Linked DNA regions of Homo sapiens. The main gene of each other region encodes a partner of the protein of the gene in region 4 in a complex. Each region holds a gene or a part of one and is shown on either strand. Other genes may lie near its edges. The genes, in order: SMC4, NCAPD2, NCAPG and NCAPH. A codon is read from its position in the direction of its gene.

What was found.
Region 1: NCAPH (region 4) and SMC4 share a complex: the UniProt entries of both Homo sapiens proteins name them as parts of the condensin complex.
Region 2: NCAPH (region 4) and NCAPD2 share a complex: the UniProt entries of both Homo sapiens proteins name them as parts of the condensin complex.
Region 3: the proteins of NCAPH (region 4) and NCAPG are in contact, whole or in part, in a crystal structure (PDB 6IGX), measured with the Homo sapiens proteins. Residues at the interface, in NP_056156.2 of Homo sapiens: Glu471, Ile472, Asp473, Phe474, Glu475, Asp476, Asp477, Ile478, Phe480, Val482, Tyr483, Phe484, Arg485, Lys486, Thr487, Ala489, Ala490, Thr491, Ile492, Leu493, Gln501, Asn502, Trp503, Ala505, Thr506, Thr507, Leu508, Phe512, Tyr514, Val516; in NP_071741.2 of Homo sapiens: Lys11 (codon at 2,896), Phe14 (codon at 2,887), Arg15 (codon at 2,884), Gln18 (codon at 2,875), His50 (codon at 1,747), Tyr51 (codon at 1,744), Lys53 (codon at 1,738), Tyr54 (codon at 1,735), Val55 (codon at 1,732), Met56 (codon at 1,729), Val57 (codon at 1,726), Glu62 (codon at 1,711), Ala64 (codon at 1,705), Val65 (codon at 1,702), Val68 (codon at 1,693), Phe102 (codon at 1,591), Ser106 (codon at 1,087), Glu108 (codon at 1,081), Ala109 (codon at 1,078), Asn110 (codon at 1,075), Ser111 (codon at 1,072), Val114 (codon at 1,063), Arg115 (codon at 1,060), Ile149 (codon at 958), Arg150 (codon at 955), Lys152 (codon at 949), Asp153 (codon at 946), Lys154 (codon at 943), Arg159 (codon at 928), Glu188.

What each region holds. Positions count from the first base shown.
Region 1 is NC_000003.12:160,416,650-160,423,649, reverse strand, and holds part of SMC4 (structural maintenance of chromosomes protein 4), read right to left. Parts: intron 5,928-7,000; coding exon 5,694-5,927; intron 4,293-5,693; coding exon 4,107-4,292; intron 2,911-4,106; coding exon 2,749-2,910; intron 226-2,748; coding exon 1-225. UniProt on the Homo sapiens protein: Central component of the condensin complex, a complex required for conversion of interphase chromatin into mitotic-like condense chromosomes.
Region 2 is NC_000012.12:6,489,448-6,497,101, reverse strand, and holds the start of NCAPD2 (condensin complex subunit 1), read right to left. Parts: upstream 3,001-7,654; 5' UTR 2,948-3,000; intron 2,027-2,947; 5' UTR 2,004-2,026; coding exon 1,877-2,003; intron 1-1,876. Other genes in the region: MRPL51 (large ribosomal subunit protein mL51), read left to right, coding at 3,966-4,044, 4,130-4,240, 4,635-4,831. UniProt on the Homo sapiens protein: Regulatory subunit of the condensin complex, a complex required for conversion of interphase chromatin into mitotic-like condense chromosomes.
Region 3 is NC_000004.12:17,806,557-17,814,003, reverse strand, and holds the start of NCAPG (condensin complex subunit 3), read right to left. Parts: upstream 3,026-7,447; 5' UTR 2,927-3,025; coding exon 2,816-2,926; intron 1,784-2,815; coding exon 1,580-1,783; intron 1,088-1,579; coding exon 859-1,087; intron 1-858. UniProt on the Homo sapiens protein: Regulatory subunit of the condensin complex, a complex required for conversion of interphase chromatin into mitotic-like condense chromosomes.
Region 4 is NC_000002.12:96,331,912-96,338,792, reverse strand, and holds the start of NCAPH (condensin complex subunit 2), read right to left. Parts: upstream 3,028-6,881; 5' UTR 2,964-3,027; coding exon 2,945-2,963; intron 1-2,944. UniProt on the Homo sapiens protein: Regulatory subunit of the condensin complex, a complex required for conversion of interphase chromatin into mitotic-like condense chromosomes.

The DNA.
Region 1 (7,000 bases), on a different chromosome or scaffold from region 4:
TGACTGTTCTATGATTTGTCCCTGTAAAGTTACCACTCTCCATCTTCTATCTTTTTGATATGCTACTCTTGTGGCTTGATCCAAGTTGTCAGCTACTAAGGTATCTCGTAAAGCAAAATAAAAAGCTTGGCGAATTTTCTCATCTTTTACTTTTACTAAATCAAATAAACGAGGAGTATTTTCAGGAGTTTGAATTTCGGTCATCTTTTTCGCCCATACAGCCATCTAAAAGTAAACAAACAAACAAACAAAAACAACAGTTAACAAAAAAGAAAACTCAAAAAAAAAAACAAAAAAAAACCCATAGGAATAAATTCAACAAAAGAAACAAGAATTATACACAAAAGGTTCTAAAATTAGACCTAAACGGAAGACATCTCATGTTTGTGGTTCTAAAGATTTAATACCGTTAAGATGCCTATACTATCTAAACTGATCTACAAATTCAATACAACCTGTATCAAAATCCCAGTTACTTCCTCGCCTTTTTTTGTGGCAGTAATTGACCATCTGGATCTTAAAAGTCATATATACAAATTATAGGGACCCAGAACAGTCAATATGATAAAGAACAAAATTAGAGGACTCAGACTTCCTGATTTTAAAACTTATTACAATGCTGCAATAATCAAGACAGTGTCCTATACCAGCACAAGTAATAAAACTGAAAGCCCAGAAATAAACCTTTACATTAATGGTTGGGTGGTTTCAACAAGGATGCCAAGAAAATTCAATGGGGTAAAGAATCTTTTCAACAAATGGTGTTGGAATAACTGGATAGCCACATGGAAAGAGTAGTTTGAGCCCTACTTTATATCACGTGATAAAATTAACTCAAAATAGATTAAAACCTAAATATAAAGCCAAAACTATAGAACTTTTAGAAGAAAACAAAGGAGGCAAATCACTGTGACCTTGGATTAGGCAGTGGTTTCTTGGGTATGATACCCAAAACACAAGCAACCAAAGGAAAAAAAAGATAAATTGTGCCTCAAAGGATACCATCAAGAAAGTGAAAATACAATCCAAGGAATGGGGTAAAATATCTGTAAATCATATCTCACAAGAGACTTGTATTCAGAATAGAGAAATCCTACAACTCAACAAAGAGAAACCAATTAAAAAATGGGCAAAGGATTTGAAACAGACATTTCTCCAAGGAAGATAACAAATGGCCAAGGACATGAAAGGACTTTTACTATCATAAATCACCAGGAAAATCCTAATCAAAACCATGAGATACCACTTCATATTCACTAAGATGACTATAATCAAAAAGATGTACCATAACAAGTGTTAACGAGGATGTAAAGAAACTGGAACCCTTACACATGCTTGTGGGAAATGGTACAGCCACTGTGGAAACAATCTTGACAGTTCTTCAAAAAGTTAAACATAGAATTACCACATGACCCAGCAGTTCTACCCTAGGTATATATATACCCAAGAGAACTGAAAATACATGTTCACTCAAAAACTTGTACACAAATGTTCGTAGCACAAGTATTGCCAAAGCACAAAAAGTGAAAACACAAATGTCCATCAACTGACAAATGGTTATACAAAATGATGTAACAGAATACCATTTGGCAATAAAAGGGAATGAAGTACTGATACATGCTACAACATAGATGAACCTGAAAACCTGCTAAGTAAATGTAGCTGTATAAAAAGGCCATATATTGTATGATTCCATTTATATGTAGATAAATCTACAGAAACAAAAAAGTAGTTAGTGTTACGGAGGGGGTGAAGGGGTATAGGGAGCGACTGTTACTGTCTATGGGGTTTCTTTCTGGGAGTGATAAAAATATCTTGGAATTAGATAGTGGTCATGGGTGAACAACACTGTGAATATACTAATACCCACCAAATTACATACTTTAAAATGATTGTTTTGTTTGTTGTTTTTGAGTCTCACTCTGTCACCCAGACTGGAGTGCAGTGGCGCAATCTAGGTTCACTGCAACCTCCACCTCCCAGGTTTAGGCAATTCTCCTGCTTCAGCCTCCCGAGTAGCTGAGATTACAGGCGCCTGCTACCATGCCTAGCTAATTTTTGTATTTTTAGTAGAGATGGGATTTCGCCATGTTGGCCAGGCTGGTCTCAAACTCCTGACCTCGTGATCCGCCCGCCTTGGCCTCCCAAAGTGCTGGGATTACAGGCATGAGCCACCGCACCTGGCCTAAAATGATAAATTTTATTGTAGGTAAATTATCTCAATAAAGGTTTTCCTTTTAACTCTGGAATGTACATTCCTTTAGTGGAGGCACTGCAAATGTCAAACAATTTTTTATAATCATATAACCCCAGAACATAAAATAATCGTCAAAACCCATCAGGTGTTCACTGAGTAACCATTAAGAAAAAGCCTGAATCCAAAAAGAAAAACACACTTAGCACTTAAAAATTCAATTATAGGGCTGGGTGTGGTGGCTCACGCCTGTAATCCCAGCACTCTGGGAGGCCGAGGTGGGCGGATCACAAGGTCAGGAGATCCAGACCATCCTGGCTAACACAGTGAAACCCCTCTCTACTGAAAATACAAAAAAATTAGCTGGGTGTGGTGGCGGGCACCTGTAGTACCAGATACTCGGGAGGCTGAGGCAGGAGAATGGTGTGAACCCGGGAGGCGGAGCTTGCAGTGAGCCAAGATCATGCCACTGCACTCCAGCCTGGGTGACAGAGCGAGACTACGTCTCAAAAAAAAAAAATTCCAATTATAGGTAGGTTATTACGAATACCCACCTTATCTAAACCTATAAAGGTTGCAACTCCAATATTTTGTCTTTTAAGGAAGTTTACACATTCTTGGGCTATATCAATAGAATCAACAACAATGTAGTCCAGTGCATGACAACAGGATGATATAGCCACGTCGTATTTTTCATCAATGGCTCCTAAGTCCCCCTAATAATGAAGAGTGGGGTGAAAAAAGAGTTAGGCAGAAAAGCACAGGACCATTTCATTCATCAAGTTTTAAAAACTTCTTTTAATTGAAAAACTTTATGTAGACATGGTTTTAAAGAGAACAAAAGGGTACACAACAAAATACAAAATATGTATAAGTTTATGAATATGCAGCTTGAATTTCTAATGAGCACAAAATGAAAGAACTGTTTTCATTTTATGAAAACAACATGAAGCTTAAAACCTAAATGAACTATAAGCAAAACTCAGAAAACTTTGAATTATTGAAAAGCATCTAAAATTATGTAAATCCTGATGAAACACATTTATCTGTTTATCTATTACACAACTATCTAGCAGTATTCACTGGTTTGGGCTTTCTTTGAGAGCAAATGAATAGGATCAAACTGTTTATCTTTAAGAAAATAAGGTGGAAGTCCCGATACAAGATGCAGAAGCAATCATGTTGGGTAATTTTTACATCAATTTGTTCCCTTCTCCGAAAGGCTGACTTAAGGACTGCATCAACTGGCTCCTTTGACTCTCCACCTTCAGCCAATTTGAGGTTTCAGCTAAGACTGGAGGGCAGGAAATAGGTGGGGTTAAGGTATCCATTTTCCCCATCTCCTCTGGACCACAACTCCCTTCCCTCGAAGCTAAGAAGCAGTAATGGTCCTCACTATTGCTAGCCTTGGATTTTTAGATTATCCCTTGTTATATCCTTAAATGCTAGCCCAAACCTAAGTAAAATGGTGTGAAACCCCAAATATATAAAAAAATTTTTTTTAATTTTCATTTTTTAAAAAACAGTCTTGCTATATTGCCCAGGATGGACTTGAACTCCTAGGCTCAAGTGATCCTTCTGCCTCTGCCTCTCCAACAGCTGGGACTACAGGCACACACCATTGTGCCTGGCTAAAGTCTCTCTTTTAAAAAAAAGGATAAAATGGTTTTAAGTTTGTGTGACATTACTAGTATTTTTCTTGATATGTATGAAATAATTGTATTTATCTAAAGCTAAGTAAACAAGAAACTGTAAGGGCAAAATGTTTAAAAATAAATGTGCCTTAAAACAAACAAAATGAATCTTATTTTATATACAGTGACACTTGAAATATGGTTGTCAAGGCAAAAAAATAAGTTACACTTTCTTAAAAAAAAAAAGTAAAGCCATGCCCCCCAAAAATCTACTTTACCAATCTTCCATATATTCCTGGAATCCTGCCAGATTTTTTTTCTTGAATTATTGCATCAAGGACTTTCCCCCTACTTCGATTCATTGCTAATGAGCTCTTTGCTTCTTCAACTTTTTGAAAGAGATCATGAACCAAACTTTTAAAGTTTGTTTCTTCTTGTGTAAGTTTTTGAAGTTCTTTTTCTTTCTAAAAGTGAAAATAAAATGAAATCCAGAAGCATTAACTTCTAAATATGACCAGTCATAGCACTGAATTAGTTGTAATGCTTTAATAACAATAAAGAAAGAAAGACCAACAATAAAAATTTGAACCAAAACTGAGCACCTGTATGGCAATTGCTGGTTTGGTTGTGGAAAATATGGATGGGTTTAAAAGGGGCATAAATTACTTGGGTCAATAAAAGAAAACATTAGGTGTAATATTTTTTTCAGGAGCAAACAGTTCATCCTGATAGAGAAGTATAGCTGGGGCTGTGGAAATCCCAGTTTGATACTACATAGTTATACATAAGTGTGCCCTAATTCTTCAGCTCTGCCCTAATGAAAAGCTGACCCAGAAAATGACTGGGCAGGACTACGGTTATGCTGTGCTTTATTTTAGCTGAACGGGGCTGGGGGGTACTGGAGAAAAAGCACACCTCTGAAACGAAAGATGACTGGATAGTCCTATTGCTATACAAAAATGCCAGGCTCCCAACAAGAAAGGAACCACAAACATGCACACATAAACACAACCTCTGTTTCTCAATCTCCAACTTCTCAGCAGCCATCTTTTCTAACTGGTATATTCCTCCATCCACTAGATTTAAATTATGTCTATTACTTACTGTACTGGCATAAAGTTTAAACCAAGTTACTGACATAATTCATCCCAAAAGAAACCGAATCCCAGGAAGACAGAAGCAGTCACTGGATCTAACTTAATTTACATTTAAATTCTACCTGGTCATGAAATTCCCTGATGACCAAATAGCATGCATTAACTAAAATGAAAAAGACTCATATTTATTTTCAGTATAATTACACTTCAAACAGATTTTTTTTTTATTGCCACCTTGCCTACTGAGGTTTTGGAGATCTTTGGAGATTAAAGTTTACGAAATTCCTTAGACATCTAATTCACTCAAGGATGGGGGACAGGCACCGATAAGCTATACATCTTAGTTAGTTTATAACATTTTGGAATGCAAGCAAAGAAACTACATCCATAAATTCAAAACCCAAAACACATTAAGATAGTTGTTTGTATATTCATTATATAAATACATATACACTTGTTTTTTATTTATCTTTAAATTGTCTATACTTAAGATTTAAAGAAACACAAACTTTCTTTTGTTTAAATTATTTCTACAGTGGGGTGGTGGTGGTGATTTACTTACTATATGGTGCTTCTGGGGATAATATAGTTTCTTGATAGTCTCAGTTCACATATGGAATACTGAAATGCTGACCTCATTCTTTTGAGATTATACAAAATGAAGAAAATTTATCACTAGTCACCTCTGACGCGGAGATTAAAAACAAAAATGTATAAAGCTGAAGTGGACGAATGATGTTCTGATGCAACAGAGAAGCAAAGATTTACCTCCTTTAATTCTTGTTCAGTTTGAGGGAGTTTTCCTTCTATATCTCTGATTGCAGCTTTCCTTTCTTTGAGAGTCTCAGAAGCTGCAATTAGAGCTTCCTTAGCCTTAGTTAATTGAGACACTGCAGTATTATGACGACTGAGATAGATATCAAGTTCTGACTGGGCTACATCCATCTTTGAACGTGCTTCATTTACCGATTTGCTGAAACCCATAAGTTCTTTCTCTCGACTCTGTTAAAATATGAGTTCATTAAATCTGGACAGATATTTACTTTCAAACCTACACTGAAATGAAACCATACATTTTATATTCGATTTAAGAAAGGAGATTCTATAAGCACAGTATATAGAAATAAGAAATTCTCACAAGTGGACTAGATTCAGTTTTTGCCTAGTTGTCAATATTCACTGTACATAGTCTTTTCCCAACTGATTTCACAAGAGCTTTGTGAGATCGATCATTACGCTGAGGAATAAAGACATTTGAGGCCTAGCTTTGTCATTAACATGGGGTGCAGGGCACATGAGTACTCAATATATATTAAATAAGCAAACAGTGAAAATCCACTAACTATGAAGTATCCCATCATGAAAGCTACTGCATTATCCATTGACACTTTATCACACAGGTATTCTAACCTGTAAAGTTTTATAATCTGACATTAGAACATGTCCATATTCCAAAGCAGACTCTATTAAGTGACACTTCATCACACAGGTATTCTAACCTGTTAAGTTTTATAGTTTGACATTAGAACATGTTGATATGCCAAAGCAGACTCTACCATGACTTTTTAATGCAGTCAATTACCATTATCCATTAACATAGGTATTTAACATGCTTAGCACTGTCAAAAATGCTGTGGTACATACAAACAAAGATAATTTTATGCTTACTCTTGTTGGGGTAGATAATACATATCAATGTGACAACTTCATGCTCTCGTTTTATTAATATAATGCTAAAATTATAGCTAACATTTATTTTCTTTCTCAGTACGTTATATAGATATATTTATTCTTTATTTTCACAAAGTAGATATATTCTTTCTCATTTTAAGGAAGATGACTTGGAGATATGACAACCGGCACAAGAACAGAGACAGTAAGTGATTGACCTAGGATTTGAACCAAGAACTGAAACAAGAGCCACAGCTTTTAACTATTACACAAGAGCTATAGAAGCAAAAACAAAAGAGACATTAACCTGCGCTTAGTGTGGCTCCAGGTTTTACAGGTGGCAACAAAATATGATGATTCAACACGCTTAGGAGTGGCATATATAATAATCAAGGTACTGTATT
Region 2 (7,654 bases), on a different chromosome or scaffold from region 4:
TCAAGTTTAGGGAGGCTCCTAGGTAATAAGCTTGATCAGTTAAACCAGTCTGGGTAATTCTATTTCTCTTACCTGTACAGTCCTGTGCCCTGTAACATTTTGGTAAACAATAGACCACATATGCGACAGTGGTGTCATAAAAATATAATACAGCTGAAAAATTCCCATCGTCTAGTGACTTCTTGGTGACCTTGACCCTGTGTAGGCCTAGGCTAATGTGTGTAGGTGTTTTAGTTTTTAACAAAAAAGTCTGGCCGAGCATGGTGCCTCATGCCTACAATCCCAGCACTTTGGTACATGTCTGTGGTCCCAGCTACTTGGGAGGCTGAGGTGGGAGGACTGCTTGAGCCTGGTAGATTGAGGCTGCAGTGAGCTGTGATCAGGCCACTGCATTCCAGCCTGCAATCCCAGCACTTTGGGAGGCTGAGGCGGGAAGACTGCTTGAGCCCAGAAGTTCGAGACCAGCCTGGGCAACATAGGGAGACACTGTTTCTACAGAAAATTTAAAAATTAGCCAGGTATGGTGGTGCATGTCTGTGATCCCAGCTGCTTGGGAGGCTGAGGTGAGAGGATTGCTTGAGTCTGGGAAGTTGAGGCTGCAGTGAGCCGTGATCATGCCACTGGACTCCAGCCTGGGCAAGAGAGTCTTTACCTTGTCTTTCAAAATAAAATAAAGAATAAAAAGTACAAAAAGAAAATTCCTTTTTCCACTTCTGGACATTAGAGGAAGAAGCTGCCATCTAGACTGGTGCAGTGGCTCACGCCTATAATCCTAACACTTTGGGAGGCCAAGGTGGGTGGATCATGTGAGGTCAGGAGTTCAAGACCAGCCTGGCCAACATGGTGAAATCCCGTCTCTACTAAAAATACAAAAATTAGCCAGGTGGTAGTGGCGTGCACCTGTAATCCTAGCTACTTGGGAGGCTGAAGCAGGAGAATCGCTTGAGCCTGGGGAGGCAGAGGTTGTGGTGAGCCGATATCGCATCACTGCACTCCAGTCTGGGCAACAGAGTGAGACCCTGTCTCAAAAAAAAAAAAAAAAGAAAAACAAAAAGAAGTTGCAATCTAGCAACCATGAAAGAAAAGCCAAGAGGAGACAAGCTAGGACCATATTGTCGAGCTGCTGCATTAACCAACCCTTCTTCTTGTAGGTGATAACAAAGGAATTGGTTATTATCTCTATATTTACAGATGACGAAACCAAGGCACTGAGACAATTAAGTAACTTGTCTAAGGTCAGAGTGGTAGAACCAGGATTCAAATCCAGGCAGCCTGGCTCCAGTCTTTAATCTCTATACCTCTCCAAAGCAAGCTAACTGCTACAAGACCGCTCCCAACAAGTACAAGGACATTATGAAGTCTTTCTGGTAATGCAAAAGGTGCTTTTGATCATTTACAGGTTTCAGTAGGTGACTGCACTGTACATATATTGCTCAGTGTTGCAGTGGTACATATATATTATGGGTTTTTGTCCCCATAATTGCACATCCAAAAAGACTCCAAAAAGGTATTACCAAAAACAGGTCGAGTTAAGTCCGAGACATTCTGAAAAAGCGATCCACTCCTATAACTCTTAAATCCACCAGGACTTAATTTTGACACACAGTAAGGGGTAAAGATGGAAAATAACTTTTCCCCAAAGAGTAATCACATACACCAAGACTGTTTTTGACTAATCCAGAAAAGGAAGTTAATGAATGTACTCTTTGGGTCATGCATCCCATGCAATTTTAGGATAAAACAGCAAAATAGGAAAAACATGTTTCTTGCTCTTATGATGCTTCCTGGTGTAGTGGAACAGAAATGACAATGTAGCAATTCCATGTGAGATGGTCCTTTGAAAGAGCTAGGTACAGTGACAGCTATGGACTCTTACCTCTAAGCTGTGGTGGAAGATGTTTGATGGACAGTACCTCTTGCACAACATACTGATTCACCCCTCCACTTTTCAACAACTCCTCTGGGGATAATGGCAGATGGAACTCATACATTTGGGGAGCCATTCTACTCCTACAGGCTCACAGGGCTAGAAACCAAACAGTGAAAAAGTCAGGGTCTATATTCAAGACCTGTCTTCGTATCTGGTTCTATTACTTTCCCATCCCCAACATATATAATGGCTTTTAGTTTTATAGCAAGCTAGTAACATCATCTGGTTTTGTTAGTTCCCCACCCCCAACATATATAATGGTTTTTAGTTTTATAGCAAGCTAGTAACATTATCTTACGGGATCTGAGATTGACCCTGGACTAGAAACTAATTCTAGTAGTGACTTTGGCACTTGGTCTTGACACTTAAACCTCTGGGCTTTATCTGTAAAAACAGGGTTACTAAACTCTGATTACTTCACAAAGTTGCTCTGATGATCAAACAAATCAAGCAGTACGAAGGTGTTTAAAGAACTATAAAGTGGCATATTAATGTGCAAAGTACTATTATTTCCATTTTTATGTGCAAAGCTCCTTAAGTATAGAGAGAATGGTCTGATCTCGTCTGAGGCCAAAACAGTGCCCCAGCATGGGCTAGTGGGCTTCCTGCACCAGAATGGTAAGAGCATTAACAATGATGATTTATTTATCCTGTGCCAAGTCTGTTAGGCTGTTTGCATGTATCATATCTGATCTAAGTATCCTAACCTCAATCCCATGAGGTGCATAATAATACAAATGAGTTTACAGAGCGGAAATTGAAGTAAGAAAGTTAAGCGATTTGCTTAACATCTTCCGTTGCGGATCTGTTAAGCGATTTGCTTAACATCTTCCGTTGCGGATCTGTTAAGCGATTTGCTTAACAACTTCCGTTGCGGATCTGTCAGACTTACAGTTTCTCACACATCGCGCCCCAGGGATATACTTACTAGGCCTATTGTATTTTGCCCAAGACTGGGTCACACTGCCATGTACTCGACTTTCCTACTCTTTTACGACCTGCAACACCACATCTTACCTGGGGATCTCACCCGCGGCTCTGATTCCGGCAGTCAGGCTGAAATGAAAAGGAAAAAACACGCGTGCACAACACGCACCAATTAGCAAGGCAGTTTTCAAGTCGGCGGAGAATCCGGCCAATCCCCGGCAGGCAGAGGCAAAGGGCCGCCTCTGAGTCTGGCAACGCGCGGGCAAAGCCACAAATACCGAGTTCAAATCTCAACGGCTGCAGGACGGCCAATCGCGACGCCCGCCGGAGCGGCCGGCCAATCACAGCGCCGCCCGGGGGCGGGCCAAGGCTCCGGCTCCGGCCCCCGCTCCCACCCCCGGCCCGCCTGCGAATCCCTCCTTGGCCGCAAGGTCCCCCTTTGCCCAGTCGGCGGGGAGGAGGCCGTATTTCTGCTGGCCAGAGACGTCGCGTCCCTGGCTGGGCATTCAGTCACCCCCAGGAAAGGAGGCAAGTCCACGCTGGGAGTTAGAAGGCATCGCCTCTAATCCAGGTTTCGCCATCTCCTCTGCTAAGTGACGTCCAGCAAGTCACTTCACTTTCAGGACCTCAAATCTCCTCCCCAGTAGTAAAATAGGGGTAATAAAAACAGCTACAGCGGAAGACTGTTGTGAGGCACAGAGAAAGGGCTTGGTCATTGGAAGCGGGTTCCAGGTTCTCAACCTTCATTTCCTTCACGGTTGAAGGACGCCAAAGAAAGCGGAAAGGGTGAATTTTCTTGAAATCTCAGTTTTGGGGAATCTTAGCGACGAGTCGCGGACCTCAGCTTGTCCGGCGCTCCAAAACTTCCGGCAGGCGGACCGGAAGCACTGAGGCGGGAAGGGTGGTAGAGGCCCCTCCTGCCGGAACCCGGGGGGCGGGGCTCGTGGCTGTTGCGGATGGGGCGTAGGTGGGCGGTGCGCCCACAGCTGCCTGGGTAAGGCCCAAGATGGCTGTCTTCGCCTTAGTACTCGTGTGAAGTTGGCGGGGACGGTTCCTGTCATCTTCTTGGGCTTATTTGGTGTGCTGTTGAAGGGGGGAGACTAGAGAAATGGCAGGGAACCTCTTATCCGGGGCAGGTAGGCGCCTGTGGGACTGGGTGCCTCTGGCGTGCAGAAGCTTCTCTCTTGGTAAGTGGCTGATGTAGGCACCCCGATAACTGCTTCGTAGTATAATAGGCGGCTCAGATTAATTCCCTCCCTTCCCCATCCCCAGGTGTGCCTAGATTGATCGGTATAAGGCTCACTCTCCCGCCCCCCAAAGTGGTTGATCGTTGGAACGAGAAAAGGGCCATGTTCGGAGTGTATGACAACATCGGGATCCTGGGTAAGACTTGACCTTCGACGTGGTACACAATTTCAGAATGGCAATTAGGCTGTAACGACTATCTTTTCCTCCTGTGTAGAGAGTGGTACTGTGCTCAATAGTAAGAGCAAACACTTATGTAGCTGTTTACATTGTGTTTGGCACTGTTCTGAGTCCCCTCGTATAATTTTTACTTCATAAGTAAAAATAAACAGTTTTTCCAAAGTTAATAAATGGCAGCATCAGAATTTTAACCCCAAGCAGTCTGGCTCCAGAGTCTGTGCTATTGTTCTGTACTGTAATGTTCCTTGTCTATAGGTGCTGCTCAGCAAGATGCAACCGTGGGTTGAAAGCTTAGCTGGTGTAGGATGAGTTCTCTTGTCTTGGATCTAATGTGTTCTCTCACATTACACAGGAAACTTTGAAAAGCACCCCAAAGAACTGATCAGGGGGCCCATATGGCTTCGAGGTTGGAAAGGGAATGAATTGCAACGTTGTATCCGAAAGAGGAAAATGGTTGGAAGTAGAATGTTCGCTGATGACCTGCACAACCTTAATAAACGCATCCGCTATCTCTACAAACACTTTAACCGACATGGGAAGTTTCGATAGAAGAGAAAGCTGAGAACTTCGGAAAAGGCTCATCTGTCACCCTGGAGAAGGGAAACTGTACTTTTCCCTGTGAGGAAACGGCTTTGTATTTTCTCTGTAATAAAATGGGGCTTCTTTGGAATTTGATAGCCACATACTTTTGTTTTCCTCTAGATGCTGCCTCTACTCATGTAGACTATGAAGTCTTGACTCATCCTAGATCTTAGGATCTTAGGTTTGGGCTTCACACCACTTGCCTTTTACAGTCTAGCTATACCTAATTCCTTTAAAAAGAAAAGTTGGTGAGAATGTTATTGGCGCTTTTTGACATAATGCTGTTATGTTAATAGTGTTTCTAAAGAGCCTTCCACACTGAAATGAAATATAAGAGAAAAATGGAGTCATACTTCTGTACTACTCTCATAAAATATTTATTAGGCATATTCTCTGAGTAGGAACTATAGGAAAAACAAAAAAGTGTGAGGTGTCCTTTCCATTTAAATATGAAACATTAAGTACCATATGAATGGTAGAGATGGCGGATACTAAGCCTGACTGGTCATCAGTTTTCTGGGTGTTTTAACATTTCAAAAGCCTAGTCCTAACCCCTAAAGATTGATCAGTAGAGCTGAGTTGAGTCTAGGGCATCTATGTGTTTTGTTCTTTTTTAATAATAATTTTTAAGAATTACAGCTGGGCAGAATGGTGCCCACATGTAATCCCAGCATTTTGGGAGGCTGAGGTGGGAGGATTGCTTGGAGACAGGAATTTGAGACTGGTCTGGGCGACATGGTGAAACTCCGTCTCTACTAAAAATAAAGTGGCTGGGTGCGGTGGCTCCTGCCTGTAATCCCAGCACCTTGGGAGGCGGAGGGGGGCGGACCACGAGCTCAGGAGATCGAGACTATCCTGGCTAACACAGCCCTGTCTCTACTGAAAATACAAAAACAAACAAACAAAAAAATTAGCCAGGAGTGGTGGCGGACACCTGTAGTCCCAGCTACTCAGGTGTCTGAGGCAGGAGAATCACTTGAACCTGGGAGGTGGAGCTTGCAGTGAGCCGAGATCGTGCCACTGCACTCCAGCCTGAGCAACAGAGCAAGACTCTGTCTCAAAAAAAAAAAAAAAACAACTTAGCTGGGCATGGTTCTGCATGCCTGTAGTTCCAGCTACTCATGGTTCTGCGTGCCTGCAGTCCCAGCTACACAAGAGGCTGAGGTGGGAAGATCACCTGAGCCCAGGAGTTTGAGGCTGCAGTGAGCTGAGATCATGCCACTGCATTCCAGCCTGAGCAACTGGGGTGAGACTGTCTCAAAAAAAAAAAAAAAAAAAAAGTGAAGTTAGGGCTGGGTGCAGTGGCTCACACCTGTAAGCCCAACACTTTGGGAGGCCAAGGCATGAGGATTGCTTGAAGCCAGGAGTTCAAGACCAGCCTGGGCAACATAGCAAGACCCCATCTCTATATTTTAAAAAACAAAAACTCCATAAAAGTGAAGTTAGATTAATAAATACTTGTTGCGGGGCATGGTGGTTGGAGCACACTTATAATCCCAGCTACTCTGCAGGCTGAGGTGGGAGGATCCTTTGAAACCAGGAGTTGGAGGCCAGCCTTAGGAACATAGCAAGACCCCATCTTCAATAAAAATAAAAAGCACTTGTTAAATTACAAGTGGGTTTTGGATAAATGGATTGATGGGTATATATGAAAACATGATCCTGGGTCTTACGGAAATGTTTAGGAGAGTCAGTTTTCAGAGGGGTGGCTGGAAGGAGCTATGCATAAGAATGGAGAAGTTGATGTGAAATGTGAGTGGCTGTATACTTTACATGATTTGGTGGTGCTAGAGTGGAGAAAATAAAATATTTGGGACTCTGCTAAGTGCAAGGTGCCCTGAAGAAGATATCTACATATCCTGGTAGAGTATCTGATTGTTAGGGAAGAGGAAATTAATAGGTCAATAGGCATTTATAGAATATTTCCTGATTCAAAGATACAAAAGGTTTTGTTTTCAAGGACAGAACAATCTTGTTTGTGGTATGAAACAGTATATAACGTTTTCTTTGAATAAATATTGAATTATTATGTGCAAAGATATTTGGAGGAACAAAAATCACCAAGGTAGGGTTGGTTCCTACCTCTAAGTAGTCTTCATTCTACTTAAAAGATGTCCGGTGGCTCACACCTGTAATCCCAGCACTTTGGAAGGCCTAGGTGGGCGGATCACGAGGTCAGGAGATCAAGACCATCCTGGCCAACATGGTGAAACCTCGTCTGTACTAAAAATACAAAAAAATTAGCCAGGTATAGTGGTGTGTGCCTGTAATCCCAGCTACTCGGGAGGCTGAGGCAGGAGAATCGCTTGAATCCGGGAGACAGAGAGGTTGCAGTGAGCTGAGATTGCACCATGCACTTCAGCCTGGGCAACAGAGGGAGACTCTGTCTTTAAAAAAAGAAAAAAAAAAAAAAAAAGACGTCTGAAGGATGTAAAGTTACAAGATGGTGGACCAATGTGATACTCTGCAGAATGTGCAAATGGTCCACATTTTTTAGATTACATCATGACAGAGAACAGAATTAACATAGCCCTGATGAAAGACCATGACTGTATACTGTTGTTCATCCCCTCCGTGGTGGACTGCTTCTGACCAACATGCTTTAGAAAAGAATGTTGGTTGGGCATGCTGGCTCAGGCCTGTAATCCCAGCACTTTGGGGGGCCAAGGTGGGCGGATCACCTGAGGTCAGGAGTTCGAGACCAGCCTGACCAACATGGAGAAACCCTGACTACTAAAAATACAAAATTAGCTGGGCCTGGTGGCACATGCCTGTAATCCCACCTACTCA
Region 3 (7,447 bases), on a different chromosome or scaffold from region 4:
TTAAGTACAGGTTGACTATCAAATACCTATGTTTTACACAATATTATTATGGGTATCTTTTAACACCAAAAAAAATACCAACTACTATAGTGATAAATATACCAGTGATTATAAAACTGGTAATAGGGACAAAAAGGACAGAAGAGTGCCTAAAACATACCTAGGCATATATGGAAAAATGAAATACAACTACCTTTATGACCCCATAGGTAAGAAAAAGTTCCTTAAAAAAGAGATTAAAAAATACGAATCATAATGGCAGAGATTTATATTTTTGACATAAGAATTTCTGTTCAAAAAAAAGATACCCCAAAGGGAGTGAAACAATGATACCCCAATGAGCCACCTAAAACAGGAAGAGATCTACAATTCATATAACCCAAGGATTTCTTTTCAAAATATATAAAGAATGCAAATGAATTTTTTAAAATAGTATTTTAAATTAAAAACCCAATGAAAAAATGGGCAAAACACAGTAACAGGTATTATATAGAAATATAATTGGCTGCTAAATATATACATACAGCATGATTTACACAAAATGACAGGAAAACATTAAGATAGACATATGTGATTTATGCAAAAAAATTTTTTTTAATTTAAGCAAGAGACTAATTAACCCCAAACTGAGGATTTAATAGTTACTTCTGAGGGACAGGGATGCAACTGGGATAGGATGCAAGTACTGACTTTTTTTTTTAAGCTGGGTGGTTGCTACTTAGGTTTTTTTTGTTTAATCGGAATCATATATTAATTACCTATACTCTTCAAATGTATAGACCATAATAAAAAATTTCAAATACTGAGAATTTAACAAAATCAACAAATCTGAAAAAAGATTTAGGAAACTACACACACCATTAACCACTGGGCATTCATCATCCTTGGGATCCTGAAGTCGTGAAAGCGCCAGAACTGCCTGTATTCTCACATTTGGAATCTTATCTTTCAATCTAATAAGCATGGCTTTATTAATTTTATCAAACACATCATCATCAATCTGAGCATTTTCTGGCATACTTCCCAAAAGCTTGTTTATGAGCAGGCACACTCTAAATCTCACTGCATTGCTGTTTGCTTCATGAGACTAAAACAGAAACAAATCAAAATTTATTCATAGTCACATACCACTCCCAAATAATCAATATTATCTGAACTCTATACATTCGGAATGCAAGAAGTTACAACAACAATTCATTTCCTGAAGAGAACCTATAATGCTACCTTGGTCCATATGTATAGCAAATATATATATTTTATACAGTCTCAAAATGAACAGTCTGAAAGAAGTCTTTGCTAAGTTACATAGTCCTCTTTGTAGAGGCTTCTAAAATACAGAACTCATTTAAAATAAACAAAGGAGAACTGGTTTAAAGAGGTCATTAAAAATTTAATGCTGGAGTTAAAGTCCACTTTTTAATCATAATGATAATTCTAATATTTCCTATGAAAGGTAGACTCATTCAGGTTTTTTCAATCACTAGATATTTCATTGTCAAAAACATACAAACTCCCACGACTCTTTTAAAGTGGCAAAATTTTCTAAAATCCCTCCCCAAAGCTATCATTTTCATAGTACCTTTAAGAGAAAAGTAAACAAATAATTTAAAAGGCCACCATCTTCCTCTTCCTCATCATCTTCCATATCTGATTGGTGAAATGAGGTAACAAACTTTGCTGCAAATTCTATTACCCTCTCCACAGCTGGTTCACGTTTATAGACCACCATAACATATTTAAGGTAATGAATGAACTCCTCATGAAAAACTGTCTTATCATCCATCTGAAAGACAAAAGAAACCCTTCATAAACTGCACCGATAAAAATCCTTTATTCCCAACATCACCCTAAGACTGATGAAAGCACTAGCCATAATAATGCAGACAAATTAAAATATTTATTTAGTAAACTCTTAATTATCCAAACCAGCCAAAGGGCAATCAATTTGCATGAATTTCTCTCCAGGCTATAATGGGAGTACACAAGCTTGACTTTTGACAGTGAAAAGATTCCTTTGATATATTTTTTTCAATATCTTTGATTCTCAATAAGCCTTTAGTACCAGTACGTTACAAATACGCTTCTTCAACAACCCAAAATCAATACTGGCTTTTATATTTCTCATATTCAGGCCTTCCTATCACCAGCAGTTTCTTTATGAGATAACTTGCACATCCTATCTCATATCCTCAAAGCCCTGTGATGTTTACTCACAATTTTTCTTGGACCTCAAGATAATTCATCTTCCCCAAATTAATTGTTCTATTCTTCTCAAGGTTCCACTCAAAACAAACAAATAGTATGTACATAAATAAGAATGGCCAGGCCCTAAAAATAATTTGGTATTTGGTGATTGGATTCAACGTAACCGTAGGACAAGGGTAGAATCATTTGATGTTCGGCGGGGAGCGATGACCCCAGGGGCAACGACCACTGAACCCCCGCATTCAGGATCCACTCTGCGGTTCAATATTTGATGTCTGATCGCCTCGGTGGTCGTAAATGTTTCTCTCCACGTTCACGATCGGACTAAGGAATAACGGTCCACGCCGCCCAGAAGCTGGGGGTGTCGGCTCAGAAAAGCCAAGGCGGGGCCCGTGTGAACGACGCCCAGGCTTCGGAGGCTTTCTGGCCTGGGCCCAGGCGACCTCGGGTAAGTCCCTGACTTCTCCGAACCTCAGATCCCTATGAAGTGAGTCGCGAAGGTGAACAAGGCTGGAGTCACGGTGCGCCGAGCCCGAGGGCCACGGAGGGCCCCTGAGGGAGGGTGGGCCGGGGCGGGCGAGAGGCGGCGGCCGGGGCCGGGAGCGCTTACCGTGCGGTAGGTGCGGCTCAGCGCCACCACCAGCTTCGCCTGGTTCTGGTGCGGCTGCTGCGCCAGCCGAAAGGCCTCCTTAATCGACAGCAGCCTCCTTTCCGCTCCCATGGCTCTGGAACCCTGCCGGGACGAGTCCTGCCCGCGCTCGGCTACAGCCTGCCAGCCCGCCAACCCAGAGGCAGCGCTCTCCGAGTAGTCTTCTATGACAGCCCCAGGGAGTATTTACCGCTCGAACGTTCAAATAATTCCCGCGAGAGGGGGAAATCCCGCGAGACTGCCGTAAGCGCTTTGGGAGAAGAGAGCGGGAAGCGATGGGTCCACCCACCTCGCACCCCGCGCTTTGGGCGCATGCGTCTAGGTTCAACCTTGTCCAGCCGTTTTCACGGAGGGAAGTGGCGTTTCTAAGGGGGAGGGGCCTTGACTCGGCCGGAAGTAGCGTCGGCGCGGGAGCTGAGCGGAGTGGCCTTGCCACCGGAGGGGAAGGGCTGCTGGCGTTAGGCCTGGCTGGGTCGTGCGGCTGAGCGTGAGGCTAGAAAGAAAAAGCGATCCTCCAAGAGTGAGAACGGGAGATCTGCCGAGGATAACAACCTCCCTTGTGGCCGAAGGGCGGGGGATCCCCACACGAGGGCTCCGCTTCGAGAGACGGCGACAAAGGAAAGTTCGTAGCGCGTTCCGGAGGCCCGGCCACCTCTGAGAAGGGAGACGACGCTGCTGGGTCCGCTGAGCGGGGCGACCCGAGGTTAGTGGAGACGGATGCTGTCTTTTGAAGGCCTTAGTCCCTGCCCTGGTGAAGCCGACTGCGAGGTTCCACAGGGCGTGCAGGCAGTCCGGGGATCGTTGCGAAGGGGGGTGCGGGCTAACTTAGCTGCTGCCGTTTCTAGATGTGCAGCTGTGTAGGCCCTGTTTACAAGTGTGCATAAGGACAGTGTATTAAGGGAGAACTCAAGAGAATGGAAAGGTCTTTCGGGTAGTGGTTAAAATAAAGAAGAGTAGGAACTAGGTTTTTAAATTTTAAATGAAATTATATCAGACAGAACTTCTGTTGGATCTCAGGATGCACCATCCAAAAATAGGACTGTAGGAGACCAAAATATGCCACCCTACAATATACTTCTAGAGTATATTTTGAGCTGGTATTCTGATAAAATGCAGACACAGGAGTCGCTCTGAAAATCTGTCCTGTTGTAAAAGAAATTGACATCTACAGAGGAAATATACATCAGTAAAGGATCTGTATCAGAAAGAGGGCAGCTCTGCGATAATTTTTGTTACCTGGGAGATCTTATCTGCATACCAAGACAACTTTTATTCACCGTATATTTCCTCCCCTCACCTTTCCACAACTTTGTGGCCACCATCCCCCAGAAAGCCGCAAGCCCCCATTTCTTGAGTAGCGTAGGATGCTGTATAATATTCAATCATCTGACCATGGTGGGACTCCTCTGCGTATGTAATTAAGTACGGGTTTTTTTTCTTGTTAATGTCTATGTCAGGTTAATTTGTAACCCAGCCAAAGAACCTAGGAGGATGGAGGGAAGCCGTTTTTCCCTCTCCTACACCTCAGTAACCTACTGCCAGCTGAAGAAATAGAACATTACTAAAGCCACCTGTACATCTTTCTCCTTTTGAATTACCTGCCCTCCGAAGAAGTAATGGATTTTCTGAATTTACTGTTAACTTTTACCATGCAGCTTTCTATATCTTAATGACATATTTTAATATATTAATGACATGAATAAATCCCTGAATGAGGATATTGTACTATTTTGCATGTTTTAACCGTTAAATGAATAATTATATGTGCATCTGGCTTTTTTCAATCAATATTGCTGTGGTTCATATTGATATGTTCATAATAGTAACTTGCACTTAATTAACCTTTATTATGTGCCAGACACCATGCTAAGCACTTTACTTCGTTTACTGCTCACAAACCCTGTAGGATAACTTTGATCTTCTTTTAAGATGAGGAAACTACGGCACAGACAGGTTGCTATAGTACTCCATTGTATTAATATGCCATACCTTATCCATTCTCCTGCTTAATTCCTCAAACTTTGTAGATATTCAGCTGCTAGTTAAGAATGTGGTAACATTTGTGTTGCCCATAATTTTGCTTTGTGACGTTTCTAATATATATTTTTTTATTTTTATTTTGAGACAGAGTCTTGCTCTGTCGCCCAGGCTGGAGTGCAATGGCGCGATCTCGGCTCACTGCAACCTCTGCCTCCCGGGTTGAAGCGATTCTCCCGCCTCAGTCTCCCAAGTAGCTGGGTTACAGGCATGCACCACCACACCTGGCTAATCTTTTGTATTCTTAATAGAGACGGGGTTTCGCCATGTTGGCCAGGCTGGTCTCGAACTCCTGACCTCAGGTGATCCACCCGCCTTTGCCTCCCAAACTGTTGGGATTACAGGCGTGAGCCACCGCGCCCGGCTAGTATTTCTTTACTATATTCTATTTGGCTGTCTCACCAACAGAGACATCACACCATTTTGTCAGTTACAGAAGAATGAGACATCTGGCCGCCAGAGGTCAGCCTAACTATATTTCGGTTAGTTTTTTTTTTTGTTTTGTTTTGTTTTAATGGTTAAAGCCATGGGGGTATTGGTTCAGTATTTTTTGATATTATAATCTGAAAATATTTTTTCAAAGGTGCTAGATTAAATTTAAACAACATAGTATACTGCCTTAAAGCTTACATTTTTCCTGACTTTTGTACTGTGAAACAGAACAAAAACAATTATGGGAAAGTAAGAGCCTTTTTAAAAATTTTCTGAGTAACATAATAACTGAAGTATAGCCAATTAGTAATCTCACAGGTGCAATCTGGTTGAAGTGAAAATAGTAAAAATATTAGAGGACAGCACAATTAAAAGCCAACAGCTTCTCCTGTCTCAGTTAATAAAGACTTACGGTCCACGACAAAGAATGAATACTCTTTTTCAGATTGAACAAGGTAATAGTACTATAATCTAAACTTAGAAGTATTACATTGTTTCTTCTTAAAGTTATAAGCAGTTTCCTTTATATTGCTGTAGTAGCATCATATATGTTGATCCTGCCTTAAAAAAATTATCTCATTTGTCTTTGTCTAACATTACCAAATCACCAAGATATAACTTGGAACTGTTCTCTCCCTGGAGTAAAATAGAACATGCTTGTGGTAGTTACTTACTGCAGGCCTTTGCCATTCTCTGACTCTTTTATTTACTGAGCCACTCATATATGCCAGACACTGTGCTAGGAGTGTGTGAAAGCCAGAGAAATACTCATTAGAGGAAAATTGCTGACCTGAAGCCATACCATATGACCTTATTAGCACAACTCAGTGTATTCGATAATGAAAATGTTCACTGACTTTGATTTTGGAAATCCCCCCTACAGAGTAGCATAAACGAGACATTGATATTGTCTCTTTTCTCATTTAAAGCTATGCCTTTAAAGGCCACCCATGTTGCTGTATATACTTGGAATGTGTTTCCACATTTTACCAGTCCGCTTCTCCAGCGATAGGAACCTAGAATGCTTCTAATTCCTGTCATCACAGATGTAGCTTCAGGGTATATCTTCATACATGTTGTTCATACGGGAATTTCTTTGCTATCTATGCCCAAAAGTAGGATTGCTAGATCATGAGATGTGCAAATAGTTTGCCTAAGTAGTGCTGCCGGACTGTTCTTCCGAACAGTTACTCCACTCTGCAATCCCACCAGCAGTGCCAGTTCCAAAAAAGAACTCACTGACACTTGGTGTTATCCAGCTTTCTTATTCTACCAAACTGATAGCATAATGTGATCATATTGTTCATGCCTTGGGATTTTCTCTTCTATAATTTGGATATCTTTGTCCATTGCTCATTTCTTTATTGAAGTTGCTTTCTTAAAAATTGATTTAACTTTGTCCTTGGTATCTTTAGTTCAGTCCAGAAATGATTAATTGTGATGTGATTAAATTCATTTTTTGGTCTGGTGCTTTATGCTTTTTTGTTTAAGAAGTCTTTCCCTGGCCTCATTTCACAAAGATATTCTGTATTATATTTAACTAACTATATAGTTTTACCATCCCCATTTAGGTCTTTAATCCATCATGAATCCTCCCTTATACATGTCATTATATGTATATGTATTAAATGGTTTTACTTTTCATTTTTTTCTTAACCTTGTTCTTAATTTTTTCTTAATTCTTATTCCAATACAGTTTTACTTTTTTTCATATAATGAGCCAGTTGTACCAATAATATGTACTAAACATATCCATTCACCCTTAGTTTATGTGCCAACCTTATTTTATATTACATTCCCAAATTATATATAGCTCTGTTTCTAAGCTCTATTCTGCTCTATTGGACTATTGTCTGTTCTTATGCTAATCCTACCTTATTTTAATGTCTGTGACTTTAGTCATAGGACATACCTTGAAGAATAGGAACTCCCTTACTGTTTAAACAGTTCATTTGGCTATATGTGGAATTTTATTCTTTCTATATAAACTTTAAGGTTTGTTTATAGAGTTCCTTAAAAATTTGATTGGAATTGTATAAATTAATAGGGAGAAAGTTGATATCTTTATGATATTTGTTCCATCCAAGAGCATGGAATGTCTGTATTTTAAATTATCATCTATAT
Region 4 (6,881 bases):
TTTATGTGTTCTCTTGCAGCTGTGGAGGGTTACATTCATTCTGGAGGCTTTGAGAGGAGGATCTGTTCCTCGCCTTTTGCAGCTTCAGAGCTGCCTACATTCCTTGGCTCACTGTCCCCCCATCACTCTAACCTCTTGTTCTGTCATCACATCTGCTCTCACTCTACCCCGACGACCTTCCTCTTACAAGGACCACTGTGATTAAACTGGGCCCACCCAGATGATCCATGATAGTCTTCTCAACAGCCTTAACTTAATCACATGAGCAAAGTCTCTTTCACCACGTAAGATAACATATTCACAGGTTCTGGACACCTTTAGGGCAAGTGTTATTCAGCCTATCACAGTGACCATCCAAAATAAAAGGTAAAATTTGCTGAACAATGTACTCAAGCAGGCAAAGAGGTTGCCTTTGTAGAGAGCACAGAAAGCCCATCCTCAGTAACAGGAGAAAAGACAGAGGCACTGGCACAGATGCAGGCAGGGAGCAGGTGCAATGGCAGACTTGGGGATGTTCCTTTTTGTTTGCTTTTTTTTTTTTTTTTTTTTTTCAATAAAATAGGAAGTAAAAACAAGGCTGGGCTCATGCCTGTAATCCTAGCACTTTGGAGGCCAAGGTGGGAGGATCACTTGAGGTCAGGAGTTCGAGACCAGCCTGGCCAACAAGGCAAAATCCCGTCTCTACTAAAAATACAAAAATTAGCAAGGTGTAGTGGCGCATGTCTGTAATCCCAGCTACTCGGTAGGCTGAGGCAGGAGAATTGCTTGAGCCTGGGAGGCAGAGGTTGCAGTGAGCCAAGATCAAGCCACTGCACTCCAGCCTGGGGGACAGAGCAAGACTCTGTCTCAGAAAAAAAAAAAGGGTTGTTGGAGTCAGGGAACCAGAGAGTGAATTAGAAAGATATAGGTGGTATTGAGAAGTGGGGTACTTTGCCAGGCATCTGTGGTTCCAGCTACTCAGGAAGCTGAGCCTGCTTGCGCTCAGCAAGGCTGCCGTGAGCTAGGACAGCACCTGTCAATAGCCACGCACTCCAGCCTGGGCAACACAGCAAGACCCTGTCTCTAAAAAATAATAGGCCGGGCGCGGTGGCTCATGCCTGTAATCCCAGCACTTTGGGAGGCTGAGGCGGGCAGATCACAAGGTCAGGAGATCGAGACCACCCTGACTAACACGGTGAAACCCCGTTCCTACTAAAATACAAAAAATTAGCTGGGCGTGGTGGCAGGAGCCTGTAGTCCCAGCTACTCGGGAGGCTGAGGCAGGAGAATAGCGTGAACCCAGGAGGCGGAGCTTGCAGTGGGCCGAGATTGCACCACTGCACTCCAGCCTGGGCGATAGAGCGAGACTCCGTCTCAAAAAAAACAAAAAACAAAAAACAACAAAGTAAAAATAGGAAGGGAGGAGGCAAGAGACATTTTTAGAAACTGAATCAAGAGGACTTATGAGGACAGTATTTGGATGTGAGCACAGTAGGCTACAGGCTAAGGAAGGAACCTGGACCTTTGGAGAGGATACCTTAACAGAAATAGGAAGCACTTAAGGAGAACCTTGTCTAAGAGAGAAACTAAACTTGGAATTAGAGGCATGCTTTAATTCTCCAAATCTTCTTTCCGTGGTTTCTCTCCTTGCCTTTGATATTATGCATCCATTCATTCAACCGATGGTTACTGAGCTCAAAGACACTTCCTATGTCTACTTCCTCATTTCCCACTCATTTTTCAACCCACTCTGGTCTGGTTCCTATTCCAACTTCATGAGAACTATCTTTTCGTGATCATCTATAACTTCCATGTTGCCTAAACCCTATGGTCATTTTCTGGCCTTTCTCTTGGAATCCAGCAGCATTTGAAACAGCTGACAGTCCCTTCCTTGTTGAAACACTCTTGGCTTCTTCCTATACCACTGTCTTTTGAGTTTTTCCAGCTCATCCTTCTCTATCCAGCTTCTAAACGTTGGTCCTAGATGTGCAGGGCCTTCCTAGTGTTCTCACCTGTTCCCATGGTTTTATGGTCTAATGGTCTATATGATAATGGTATCCAAATTTATTTCTCAATCCATGGGTCACTTCCCTGAGTGGTCCATATAACTCCCCTGAGAGCCAAATTCTCACCTAAGTGATTATAGATCCCTTCACCTGAGTCTCTCCCGTAAGTCACACATACCATGTCCAAAATGTAACTCAATTTCCAAATCTCTTACCCAAGGCCTCCAGACCCTGCCTACGTGTCAGGCCTCACTAAGCTTGGTCACAATGTTCTGGTCAGGTCCTAGGCCAGGCCAGGCTCTTCCCTGCCTCATTTTTGTACTTGCTCCTTCTGCCTGAAACACGTTCCCTAGTATCTGCCTAAAGATCTTCCCTGAACCCCTGGCGGAGCCACCCCTACTCTGCTATACTCAATCACAGCACTCAGCCTCATGTGTAATTATTTCTTTTGTTTACTGTCTGTCTCCCCAACTCCAACAGTATAGAGATATTATCAATTTTGTTCGCCCAACGGGAGAGCTCAGTACTTTTGAATAGATGCAAAAATAAATGCATGCATGCTAAGCATACAACGGTAACCACATCGCTTCCAAAGCCCTGAAAATAACGTCTATTCCAGGAAAACCACCATTTTAATGGAGAGACACCGAGCACGCTTTAGGAGCCCAAGGAGGAGGCCGCCCCACCGCCCGCCCGGGAACTGAGGAGTGTGAGGCAGGGCCCGCGCGCTCTCCGACTCCGGCCGAAGCCGCTTTCTGATTGGCTGAGCGCACAAGGTCCGCCCGCCCCGCGCCGGCCCTCCCCTCCCCCCGCACCGGCCTCTGCTGTCAGCCGCAGGGCCAAGACCCGAGCTGAGCATATCCTCTCTCCCCGCCCAGGCCAGCCCGCCAGCCCTGCCCGCCCGAAGTACTGCTTCGCTAGGGGCCCTTCCCGCCGCGCCTCCCGACCGCCCGGCTCACCTGGGCCGGGAGGTCCCATCTTTCCTTGGCGTCTCCTGAGCTGGTTTTAAATCGCGCGCGTCGAGACGCCTGAGCGCCGTAACGGCCGCGTGACGTCGCCGGCGGGCCGGGCCAGCAGCGCGCCTGCGCAGACCACCTCGGGCCTCCGCGGGCGGCGTCAGAGTGAGTTTTGGGTTGAGGACCCCGTCTGATTGGGCTTCTTGGGGTCGGTGGACCCCCTGAAATAGTATGAAAACCCCCTCCTTCGAGGACTAGGTGCAGGACTGGGCTTGGGAACCCAGCGTCGAGCAGGGTGAGCAAGGCCCGTCTTTCGTGGAATTTACTTTCTTTTTTTTTTTTTTTTGGGACGAAGTCTAGCTCTTGTCCCCCAGACTGGAGTGCAGTGGCGCGATCTTGGCTCACTGCAACCTCCGCCTCCTGGGTTAAAGCGATTCTCCTGCCTCAGCCTCCCGAGTAGCTGGGATTACAGGCGCCTGCCACCACGCCTGGCCAATTTTTGTGTTTTTAGTAGAGACGGGGTTTCACCATGTTGGCCAGGCTGGTCTCGAACTCCTGACCTCAGGTGATCCGCCCACCTCGGCCTCCCGAAGTGCTGGGATTACAGGCGTGAGCCACCGCGCTCAGCCCGTGGAATTTACTTTATAATGGGGAGGCAGATGATCGAGAAAACGAGGTTTATTTCCCTTAGAGATCTGTGCTGTGTGGGCAGCAAAACGCTGAAAACCTCCGGGAAGAGGGACGGAGGGGAGCGGGAGCCTACGTGGGAATGAGGAGCGGTCCAGGTGGGGAAGAACTGATGCAGAAATGCTATGTATACATTAAATATAGTACAAAATGTACATTTAATATAGTGTAAGATGAAGGCCATCGTTTTATTCAGATTCTTGTGAATAGCTTCCTGTGAACACCCCCCACCCTTCAAAAAATAAATAAAGGTCGAAAAAGCGAAATAAGCATAAAATGCCATCTGTCCCCTCAGTTTCATCTAACCCTAAGGATTGAATTATGGGAGTAAAGGCCAGGGTGATTCCCTGGAATATCCCCAGCACATCCTAGAATTTCTTGTAACTCTCATATCTGGCATCTTTTACAGTGTTTCTCTTCAAGGGCACTGTTGGCATTCAGGGTGAAACAATCCTTGGCATGATAGGATGTTTGCCCTCTTTGTGGGCTCTTAAGCCCCCGTAACATCATTTGCCCACTAAATGCCATCAGTGCTGTCGCTCATTTTGGCAATCAAAAAGTGCCACCCTTTGTTGAAAACCACTTTTTTTTTTTTTTTTTTTGAGACAGAGTCTTGCTTTGTTGCCCAGGCTGGAGTGCAATGGCACGATCTCAGCTCACTGCAACCTCCACCTCCCAAGTTCAAGCGATTCTCCTGCCTCAGCCTCCTGAATAGCTGGGATTACAGGCGCCCACCACCACACCCAGCTAATTTTTGTATTTTTAGTAGAGATGGGGTTTCACCATGTTGGTCAGGCTGGTCTCGAACTCCTGACCTCAGGTGATCCACCCGCCTTGGCCTCTCAAAGTGTTAGGATTATAGGCATGAGCCACTGCGCCTGGCTGAAAACCACTTTTTAAGCCTATCTGTTGTTCGTATAAACTTGTTCTTCTAGTGACCACCTTCAAATCTTCAGCGTAAGGCTGTGTGGGTTAGAGAAAACAGGTTGACACTGTTTATCTCAGCAAATGATACCATCAGCCACCCAAGAACCCAAATCAGCACCCAGGAGTCATCCTGGGGGATTCCCTCCCTTTCTCTCCCCACACAATCCATCATCAAGCAAGCTATTTTCACCTCCTAAAAATTGCCAATCCTGCCTTTCTCCTTCCATCCACATTACCTTCTCACTGGCCTGCTCTGGCCCCCCCTCAGGCCCTGAGTAGTGTATGCGGAGTCCAAATCTGAGCTGTCACTCCCACTTGTCCCCCACCACTTCCTCCCGGAAGTATAACACTTCAGGGGTTCCACCACCCTGGGAACCTCTAAGCGTCCTACAAGGTCCTGGAAGGGTCTTCCTGCCAGCCTCCCCACCCCTGCAGCCTCTCCAGCCTCCTCAGGGACCTTGCTCCCCTTGCTCCCTGCCCTCCAGCTGCCCTGGCCTTTTTTCAGATTCCTCTCATCACACCTGCTCCTACCCCCAGGCCTCTGCACACACACACTCCTCTAGCTAGGATCCTCTTCATCCCCATCTTCACCCCCGTAGCTCCAGTTAGGTTTCTACTCCCCTCAGGTTCCTCAAGGAGACCTTCCCTGATACACACAACTCTCCATACTGGAGGCTTCAGGAGAACTTGTCACAGCTGCAATTTTCCATGCACTAGGGTGACTATTTCATGTCTGTCTCCTACATAGACCGTCAGCTCCATGAGGATGAAGCCATATCTGTTCACTATGGTTTTCCCATGGCCTGGTGCTGGCCCTGGACATAGCAAGTACTTAAATATGTATTCAATGAGTACATCTGGAAGACAATTTTAAATCCTGGGTTGGGCATGTTAACCTCTCTGGGCCCCATTTTCTTCCCCGTCTATAAAATGGGGAAGGCACTATCCCCGCACTGGACTTGGTCAGTATATGCTGGGGTCCCTGTCATCTCCCTCACTTGTTCTCTCTGCTGAATGCATCTGAGGGAGGACACTGGGACAAGTGTGATCCTCTGGATTCCATGTGTACATAAGAGTAGCAAGGGTTAGGTGATACACTGAATCAGGAGCCTCTGAAGAACAGCTTGGAAGCCCTGGGGGAGGAAAGCTACTAAGTGACCCACTAGGTGAGCCTTGAGGCTGTTCTGTGGGAATAATGGAGCCACCTGAGCTGCTTCCAGCTTCACGTGCAGGAAGGCAAAGCCAGCTCCATGCCCAGTGTCTCTCTGGGCCAGGGCTGCCTTATGCGGGCAGGTCTTTCACCTCCTGCTCTGAATGCCATCTTTGTTTTGTTTTTAGGACTATGAAGGGTGCCAAAAGAGTGAATGATTTGGCCGGGCGCGGTGGCTCAAGCCTGTAATCCCAGCACTTCGGGAGGCCGAGGTGGGCAGATCACAAGGTCAGGAGATCGAGACCATCCTGGCTAACACAGTGAAACCCTGTCTCTACTAAAAATACAAAAAAAAAAAAAAAATTTGCCTGGCATGGTGGCGGGTGCTTGTAGTCCCAGCTACTCGGGAGGCTGAGGCAGGAGAATGGCATGAACCTGGGAGGCGGAGCTTGCAGTGAGCCGAGATTGTGCTACTGCACTCCAGCCTGGGCAACAGAGCAAGACTCCATCTCAAAAAAATAATAATAATAAATAAATAAAGAAGAGTGAATGATTTATCACTGATCTCAGTGGTGTACAAAGCTCAATACCTCTGTTTGTGCAAAAGTAAAGTAGTTAAGGTTCCTCCACTAATCCTAGGCTGCCAGAAAAGCAGAGCTGGTGTCGTCTTCCTTCCCCACCCCATTTTACTCTTCATGGAGATTCTACTTCCCCCAAATAAATGGGAAACTGCCTTAGTTTAGGTGAGAAACAATAGTGTTATCCATTGGCTACCTGAACAAGCAATCTTTTGGCTTCAAATTTGCCCTGACTTTCCAGCCTGCAGCTGGCTTATATAATGATGTAGTCTGTGATAGAAACCATCAAGTCACTGGGACTTAGTAGGCATATAGTTGAAATGGCTTTGCGTTCGTTTTGGCCTCCAAGCAAATGCCTTTTTTTTCTTTTTTTTTTTTTTTTTGAGACGGAATTTTACTCTTGTTGCCCAGGTTGGAGTGTAATGGCGCCATCTCGGCTCACCACAGCCTCTGCCTCCTGGGTTCAAGTGATTCTCCTGCCTCAGCCCCCCCAAGTAGCTGGGATTACAGGCATGCACCATCATGCCCAGCTAATTTTGTATTTTTAGTAGAGACAAGGCTTCTCCATGTTGGTCAGGCTAGTCTCGAACTTCCAACC